Linked DNA regions of Homo sapiens. The protein of the gene in region 1 interacts with the protein of each later gene in a pairwise test. Each region holds a gene or a part of one and is shown on either strand. Other genes may lie near its edges. The genes, in order: KCNK4 and ORMDL1.

The links.
Region 2: the proteins of KCNK4 (region 1) and ORMDL1 interact in binary tests that used the Homo sapiens proteins (3 or more experiments, as listed by UniProt).

Annotation. Positions count from the first base shown.
Region 1 is NC_000011.10:64,290,014-64,294,415, reverse strand, and holds the start of KCNK4 (potassium channel subfamily K member 4), read right to left. Parts: upstream 3,115-4,402; 5' UTR 2,850-3,114; intron 2,695-2,849; exon of another isoform or gene 2,631-2,694; intron 2,419-2,630; exon of another isoform or gene 2,298-2,418; intron 1,475-2,297; 5' UTR 1,398-1,474; coding exon 1,209-1,397; intron 1-1,208. UniProt on the Homo sapiens protein: K(+) channel that conducts voltage-dependent outward rectifying currents upon membrane depolarization. Voltage sensing is coupled to K(+) electrochemical gradient in an 'ion flux gating' mode where outward but not inward ion flow opens the gate.
Region 2 is NC_000002.12:189,771,892-189,774,491, forward strand, and holds part of ORMDL1 (ORM1-like protein 1), read right to left. Parts: intron 2,224-2,600; coding exon of another isoform or gene 2,214-2,223; exon of another isoform or gene 1,958-2,213; intron 12-1,957; coding exon 1-11. UniProt on the Homo sapiens protein: Plays an essential role in the homeostatic regulation of sphingolipid de novo biosynthesis by modulating the activity of the serine palmitoyltransferase (SPT) in response to ceramide levels.

The DNA.
Region 1 (4,402 bases):
CTCCCGAGTAGCTGGGACCACAGGCATGCACCACCACACCCGGCTAATTTTTGTATTTTTAGTAGAGATGGGGTTTTGCCACATTGGCCAGGCTGGTCTTGAACTCCTGACCTCAGGTGATCCACCCACCTCAGCCTTCCAAAGTGCTAGGATTACAGGCATAAGCCACCGTGCCCGGCCAACACTTTCTTGAGTCTATGGTTGGAGTCTGACCAGAAGTGCCTCAGGGAACCCTGACGCACCCCCCCTTCTCCCCACATGGTAAGCATGCATGCTGGGGGAAGGGGCACCTGACCTGGCATTCCTGGTGGCATGGATCCTGGAACCCTCCCAAATCACCTGCACATGTTCATATGCACACTTTTCCAGGGGGAGGGGGTGTGTTCACCATGTTCTTGGGCTTTTCTAAGGCACATGACTCCAAGAAAAGTATGGGAACCGGTGTAGGTAGGGTTGCCAGATTTAGCAAACAAAAATATTGCTTGGGATGGACTTGTATTAAAAAGGCATTTGTGGGCCAGGTGTGGTGGCTCATGTCTGCAATCCCAGCACTTTGGGAGGCCGAGGCGGGTGGATCACTTGAGGTCAGGAGTTTGAGACCAGCCTGGCCAACATGGTGAAACCCCATCTCTACTAAAAACACAAAATTTAGCCGGGTGTGGTGATGAATCCCTGTAATACCAGCTGCTTGGGAGGCTGAGGCAGGAGAATCACTTGAGTCTGGGAGGCGGAGGTTGCTGTGAGCTGAGATCACACCACTGCACTCCAGCCTGGGTGACACAGGGAGACTCCGTCTCAAAAAAAAAGGCATTTGCAGTTTAACTGTAATTCATGTTTAAATGAGAGTCTTGGATTTTGTGTGGCAATCTAGACCGGTGAGTGAGACCTGTGCAAATGTAACATAGCCCATGCGCTATGGCCATTCATTCATTCATTCATTTCCCCCTCATCCCACCACCATCACACCCTGAAGGAGACATTATAGGTGCACAGTCCTGTGCCAGGCTCTCCAGGAAAACAAATGACCCCACAGTTGCCCTATTGAAAACACAGAGACCTGGTCCCCAGCCTCTGTCCCACAGCCTCCCACTGCACCCGTCCTCAGGGATACTGATCTGAAAGCAGCACTGGCACAGGGCCTCACTGGCACACAGCTAGCGCCAGGGGTGATGGGTGACAGCTGAAGGGGCTGCGGCCCACCCACGCACCTTGATGAGGAGGCCCAGCTCCTGGTCGCTCACACACGGATGGGCCCTCAGGAACTTCTCTCGGACCTCCCCCAGCTCCCTCTGGGCCTGCTGCTCGTGGGGCTGCTCCAGGGCCCGGAACACCAGGGCACCAGACACCAAGTAAAGCAAGACCAGCGCCAGCAGGGCCAGGAGCGTGGTGCTGCGCATGGCGCGCCCAGGCGCCGGGCCAGCTCCACTGCCCGCCTGGAGGGGCCGGGCGGGGGGCTCCTGGGGAGCTGTCGTCACTGCGGGCAAAACCAGGGATGCTGGGGTCACTGAGCTGGCCTGACACCCACACCCTCCTCCTCTATCCCCTACACACCCAAAGATCCATAAAGCCCCCAGCTGCACTGTCCACAGACATCCCTCTGGCTGGACACACCCAGTCCCCCTCCTATCTCCAGCCTTCCCCTTACCTCCGCTGCCCGGCCCTCAGCCCCTGTCTGGGACTACCGGGTGAGGAAAGAGAGGAGGGCACCGAGAAGGGAAAGGAAGGCGAGTGGGAGGCCGAAAGAGAGCCTAAGCCTGCCTAGGGGGAAGCGGGGCGAGCGAGGAAATGTGTGGAGCTTGGTGGGGGTGCGGGGAGCTGGCCCTCGAGGAGGAGGCTGAGGGGGCTCGGAGGCGTCCGAAGGGAAACCCGGAGGAGAGGCCGGACAGCGCAAGGCGGGGACAGGGGAATGGTGGGTCCCTGCTCGCCCGCTGCGGCTGTGACAGCATCTCCGCGGCTTCTCCGTCCCCTCTCGCCTCGCCCTGCTTCCTGGCTGGCCCTCCAGGGTGCCCCCGCGCCCCGCCGGGCTTTCGAGGAACCCAGGGGCGGGTCCCGGCCGCCGCACCCAGGCGAGGAGGGGTGCTGGGGACGCCCAGTTCCCGGAAAAAGCGGGGCGGGGGTCCGCAAAGGCCACACCGGGGCGACAGCCCCCGAGACAGCTGTCAGTCCGAGACAGCGGGCGGCGGCGCCCACGCGCACACACGCCCCGGCACGCGCCGCCAAGCGCGGGCACAAAGACCCGCGCGCCCACGCTCCATCCCGAGGCTGCAGCGCCGCGCCGCCCCGCTGCACGCACGCACCCCACCTGCACTCTCCGCAGACGCCCCGGCATCCCCGGCCCCCATGGGCGTGCCGGCCGCGCCAGGGCACCCAGAGCCCACGCACACGTGTGTGGACACTAGCGTGCACACGCCAGACAGCAGGGCCACCGCGCAGCGCCCGCAGCTCGCTCCCACCGCCTCCCCCGCGTCCGCACAGCGACGCCTCGGAGCGTGGCGGGCGGCGGGACCGGCGGCCACACCACTCCCGGAGGCGCCCACGCGCGAGAGGTGGGCACCCCGCCCGGCCAGTCGCCCCTGGGGCGTCCCTGCCCCTGAGTCCTGCCCGCGCACCGGAGCCCGCACCGCACTTACTGTCGGCCCCGCTGCGGCTGCGGCTGAGGCCCGGGTTCCAGCACGGCCTCGCCGGTGCCGACTGGGCCGCGGAGGCGGCAGGGGCGGAGCGGGCGGCCGCCGGGGCTGGGACCCCCCTCCCGCCGGCAGAAGCCCCCCTCCTCCCGCGGTTAACCCCTCCGGCGCCGCGCTTCCCTCCGTGCAGCGCCCTCGCCGCCGGCGCCGCCCCAAGCCGTTTACCTGCGGCCGCCTGGCTCCCCACAGCCGGCCAGCCCCGGGAGGTGGGTGGCAGAGGAGCCGGAGAGGGGTTGCAGCAGGGGCCAGCCTTCTAGCCTTGGACCGGAGCCCAGTGTGGCCAGCGGCAGGGCCCCGACCTGGGCATCAGCTGGCCCGTCTCTCCGGACAGGCACCACGCTAATCTGGCATCTCCCAGGCCCATTACCGGATCGGGAAGGGTCCGCAACTCTCCGCCCCTGGGGACAGCCTGGCCCTTGGGCTCAGCACTCATGAGGGAGGGGCTCCGCGGGACAAAGGGGTGGGGGAAACCCGGTGGGGCCACCTGGAATTGGCCGACGTGGAGGTTGGGACCCACCTCTGGGGGAGTTGCTGCTGGAGCACCTCCTGCCCCCACTCCAGGTTTTGGCCCTCTACCTGCTCCCCGGCTATCCCTCCAGGGTGCTCCCTGCCCCAGCTTTTGGTTCTCACTTCCATGCCCAGAAATCAGCCCCGGAAGGCTGTGGCTGAAGCTGCCTGCAGATCCCAGCATGGCACTGGTGCCAGCATCCACTCTCCCACTGCCTGAACACCCAGGCCCTGGCTGGTCCTGAACTTGCCCCGCCCTGTTCTCACCCACTTGACAACCTGTGACCTCTCCAAAGACCCTCTGGTGCCTGCTGGGGTCCTCAGCCCTCATGCTGGATGGCTTTCAGCCTGGGCTTTGAGGCTGACCACCCGCTACTGGTAGGGAACCTGAACAGGTTACCAAACTCTGGAGTCTCCCTGTTCCCACTTACAGAAAAGGGATGATTAATCATCACTTCGGGGTGCTGTTCTGGGCATTAAGGAGGCCAGTGTTTAGAAATCCTCAAAACAGAGCCTGGCACACACAATAAAGTGCCCCACAAACGTTAGCAGTTTTTATTTCAACAAAAAGTGATTGTCCAGCTTCAAGCTGATTCTCTATGAGTCTCAGATGCCCTCTCTGGAGGCCCTGAGGGCCTGGTGCCCAGGATGGTCCCAAGTAAAGGGTTTTGAAGCAGGCCCAGTGATAAGCCAAGGGAACTCTGAAAAGCTGGGACAACCACCTATGTGGGCAGGGGACAGACCCTCCAGCAAAGGACTCCTAGCCATCAGACAGACCTGCCAGGGCCATGGAAGCAGAGGGCAGTGACTATGCTACTAAGGACAGTGGAGAAGAGGGCTAACGGGAGGGCATAGCTAGGGGACCACCTGTACATCTGGGCAAACCCACGCCCTGGTAGGAAGATGGGGGCTGCTCAGTCACTGCGCCAACTCCCCAGCAAGCCCTGGACTAACTCCTGACTCCTAAAGACCAGGTTGGGGTGGTGATAGGGAAACAGGGCCTCCAGAAAGTCTAATCCATTGGGGTTAAGACTCAGAAGCTGCCAGGCATGGTACCTCATGCCTGTAATCCCAGCACTTTGGGAAGCTGAGGTGGGTGGATTGCTTGAGCCCGGGGGTTCGACACCAGCCTGGGCAACATGGTGAAACCCCACCTCTAAAATTAAAAATTAAAAAATTAGTCAGGAATGGTGGCATGTGCCTGTATTCCC
Region 2 (2,600 bases), on another chromosome or scaffold:
CCAGAAAATATCTGTAGAGATAAAAGTTAAGAATATATATAACATCCAAAAATAAAATTACTTGGAACTTAAACAATTTTAAAGGTAGAAAAAAAGGCCACTAAAGCATAAATACCTAAAAATGAAACTATTTTTGAGCACTAAAACAAGAGGAATCGGTTTGGTCCCAAGTTTATCTCATTAGGAACTAAAAAATTTGTTTAATGGAGGTCCACATTTTCCATTTCTGCAATTGTATTAAATACATTTAATAGAACACACTGCATCCTTTAAAGCAAGGCTTATCAAACTAGGGTTCATATGCCCTCTGTAATTACAGGTGTAGTTCTGTATTTCCATGTATGTTTCTGAAAAAGATATGGATTCAAAGCATTCATCTTATTCTCAAAAAGTTTTGTGACTCACAGGTTAAGAACCTGTACTGTAAAGCTCCAAAAAATGGGGTTTTAGTGCATTAGTACAATTCCTATCTTTGAAGGAAATAAATATTTGGTTGCCCTTTTGATGTTCTCATTTTCATACTGTAGTTGAGCAGCTCTATAACCAGTTTAACCGGTAACCTGAAAGACACTGTTGTACCATTCCAGCTGCTTTTTAATAATCAAATGCATGTATGTTTTTGGATATCCAACTGAGAATTTGTTTTAACAAGCCCCAAGCCTAAAAAGCACCTTTAAAATCATAAATCACCAAGTCCAGAATGTTTAGTTTTACCTACAGGTATATCATATCAAGGTGCAGACACATCATCTGATTACTAACAGAATAATACAGATAAGATGTAAAGAATAAAACATCATATCTTATTTGTTCATAATTAAGAAGTTAGTTTCTATTTAGGTCTTTGCAGTACGCAAGGAAAGTATTCTAATAGCCTTTACTGACATTAGTTTCTCATAAGGGAAAATAAATATCTTGTGTAACATGGTTAGAAGAGAGGAGCTACTTCCAAGTATGACAAAAAACATCACAAGAGAATTTTATACATTTTTAAAACCATCTAGATTGAGAAATTCTACAATCTTCCACCTATTTTGCAAACTACAGTCAGAAAATTCTTTCTCTAGTGTAAACCATATTCCTCAATTCTGAAATTCTTTCTTCCTGTTTTCATATATTTGAAGACTAAATTTATACTTCCTTTACTGAACAAAATAGGACATCACTTGCATTTAGCAAACTCATTTCATTTCCCACCATCATTACAGGTTGAATCTATAATCTGATAGGTTAGAAATAATAAATCTTATAATGGGTTCTTTTGACTATAACCTAGCATATGTCCCCTTTTTGTCTTTTAATTAAAACTAATTTTGTGTGTAGATTATATGAAAATTACTTGACTCTTTCAAAAACTTAGGCAATCCTCTGATGGTATGCAAAACCCAGGTGGGACTCAGTGTGACAACATTTATTTGCCAACAGCTATATTGGAAAGAGACCTGTATTACAAGATAGTAGTTTAGGGTTTAACCTGAGCTCTGAACTCCAACTAGGTGCAAGATCTTCAACAAGGTAATGCATTTGAGTCTGTTTCTTTACTTAAAAATCTGGAATATGGTGGCTCACCCTGTAATCCCAGCACTTTGGGAGGCCAAGGCAGGCGGATCACCTGAGGTGAGAAGTTCAAGACCAGCCTGGTCAACATGGTGAAACCCCATCTCTACTAAAAATACAAAAAGTAGCTGGGCACGGTGGTGCACGCCTGTAGTCCCAGCTACTGGGGAGGCTGAGGCAGGAGAATCGCTTGAACCTGGGAGGCGGAGGTTGCAGTGAGCCAAGATTATGCCACTGCACTCCGGCCTGGGCAGCAGAGCAAGACTCTTGTCTCAAAAAAAAAAAAAATTCTGGAATAACATTCCATGTCACACCTACCTGACAAATAATCAAATAAGAAAATGTGAAAGCACTGAAAAGTCCTAATGCTATATAGATGGCTTTAATGCTATTTCTTCAGTTAAGTAAGCAATTTAATCAGAATATTTGAAATCATACCTGTTGGTCAAAAATACATTTTGAGAAATATGGACACTGTATACAGGTACATCTCAGTTGGCTTTTTGTGTGATAGCTGTGATTAAAACTTCTGAATGTCAGGCATTTTACATGTATTATAATGCAATCCTCAATGTTTTACAGATGAGAAAACTGAGCTTTTGAAGAAAACGGCCAAAAGTCACAGAGCTTCAAAGGGGTTGAGCCAAAATCCAAATTCAGGGCCATCTGAATAACCAATATTTTTGTTATTACATGCATGCATGCATTCATTCACTTATTTATTTAATAAATCGGGTCTTGCTCTGTTGCCCAGACTGGAGTACAGCAGTGTGACTACAGCTCACTGCAGCCTCTTAACTCCTAGGCTCAAACCATCTTCCTGCCTCAGCTTCCCATGTAGCTTACATTTATTTTTATCAGACTACACTGACACTTTTCTTTGAGGTTAATATTATATGGGACTAAATCAATTCAAAATTTCCTCAAAGGGCTATAAATTAAGGAAAAAGAACCCCATTATTTTATGATCAGTTTATTCCTTTCACTTTAAAAATGCCTTCCCTTACTTAAATATCTAAAACCTAGTCTCTCTTAAGTTCTAA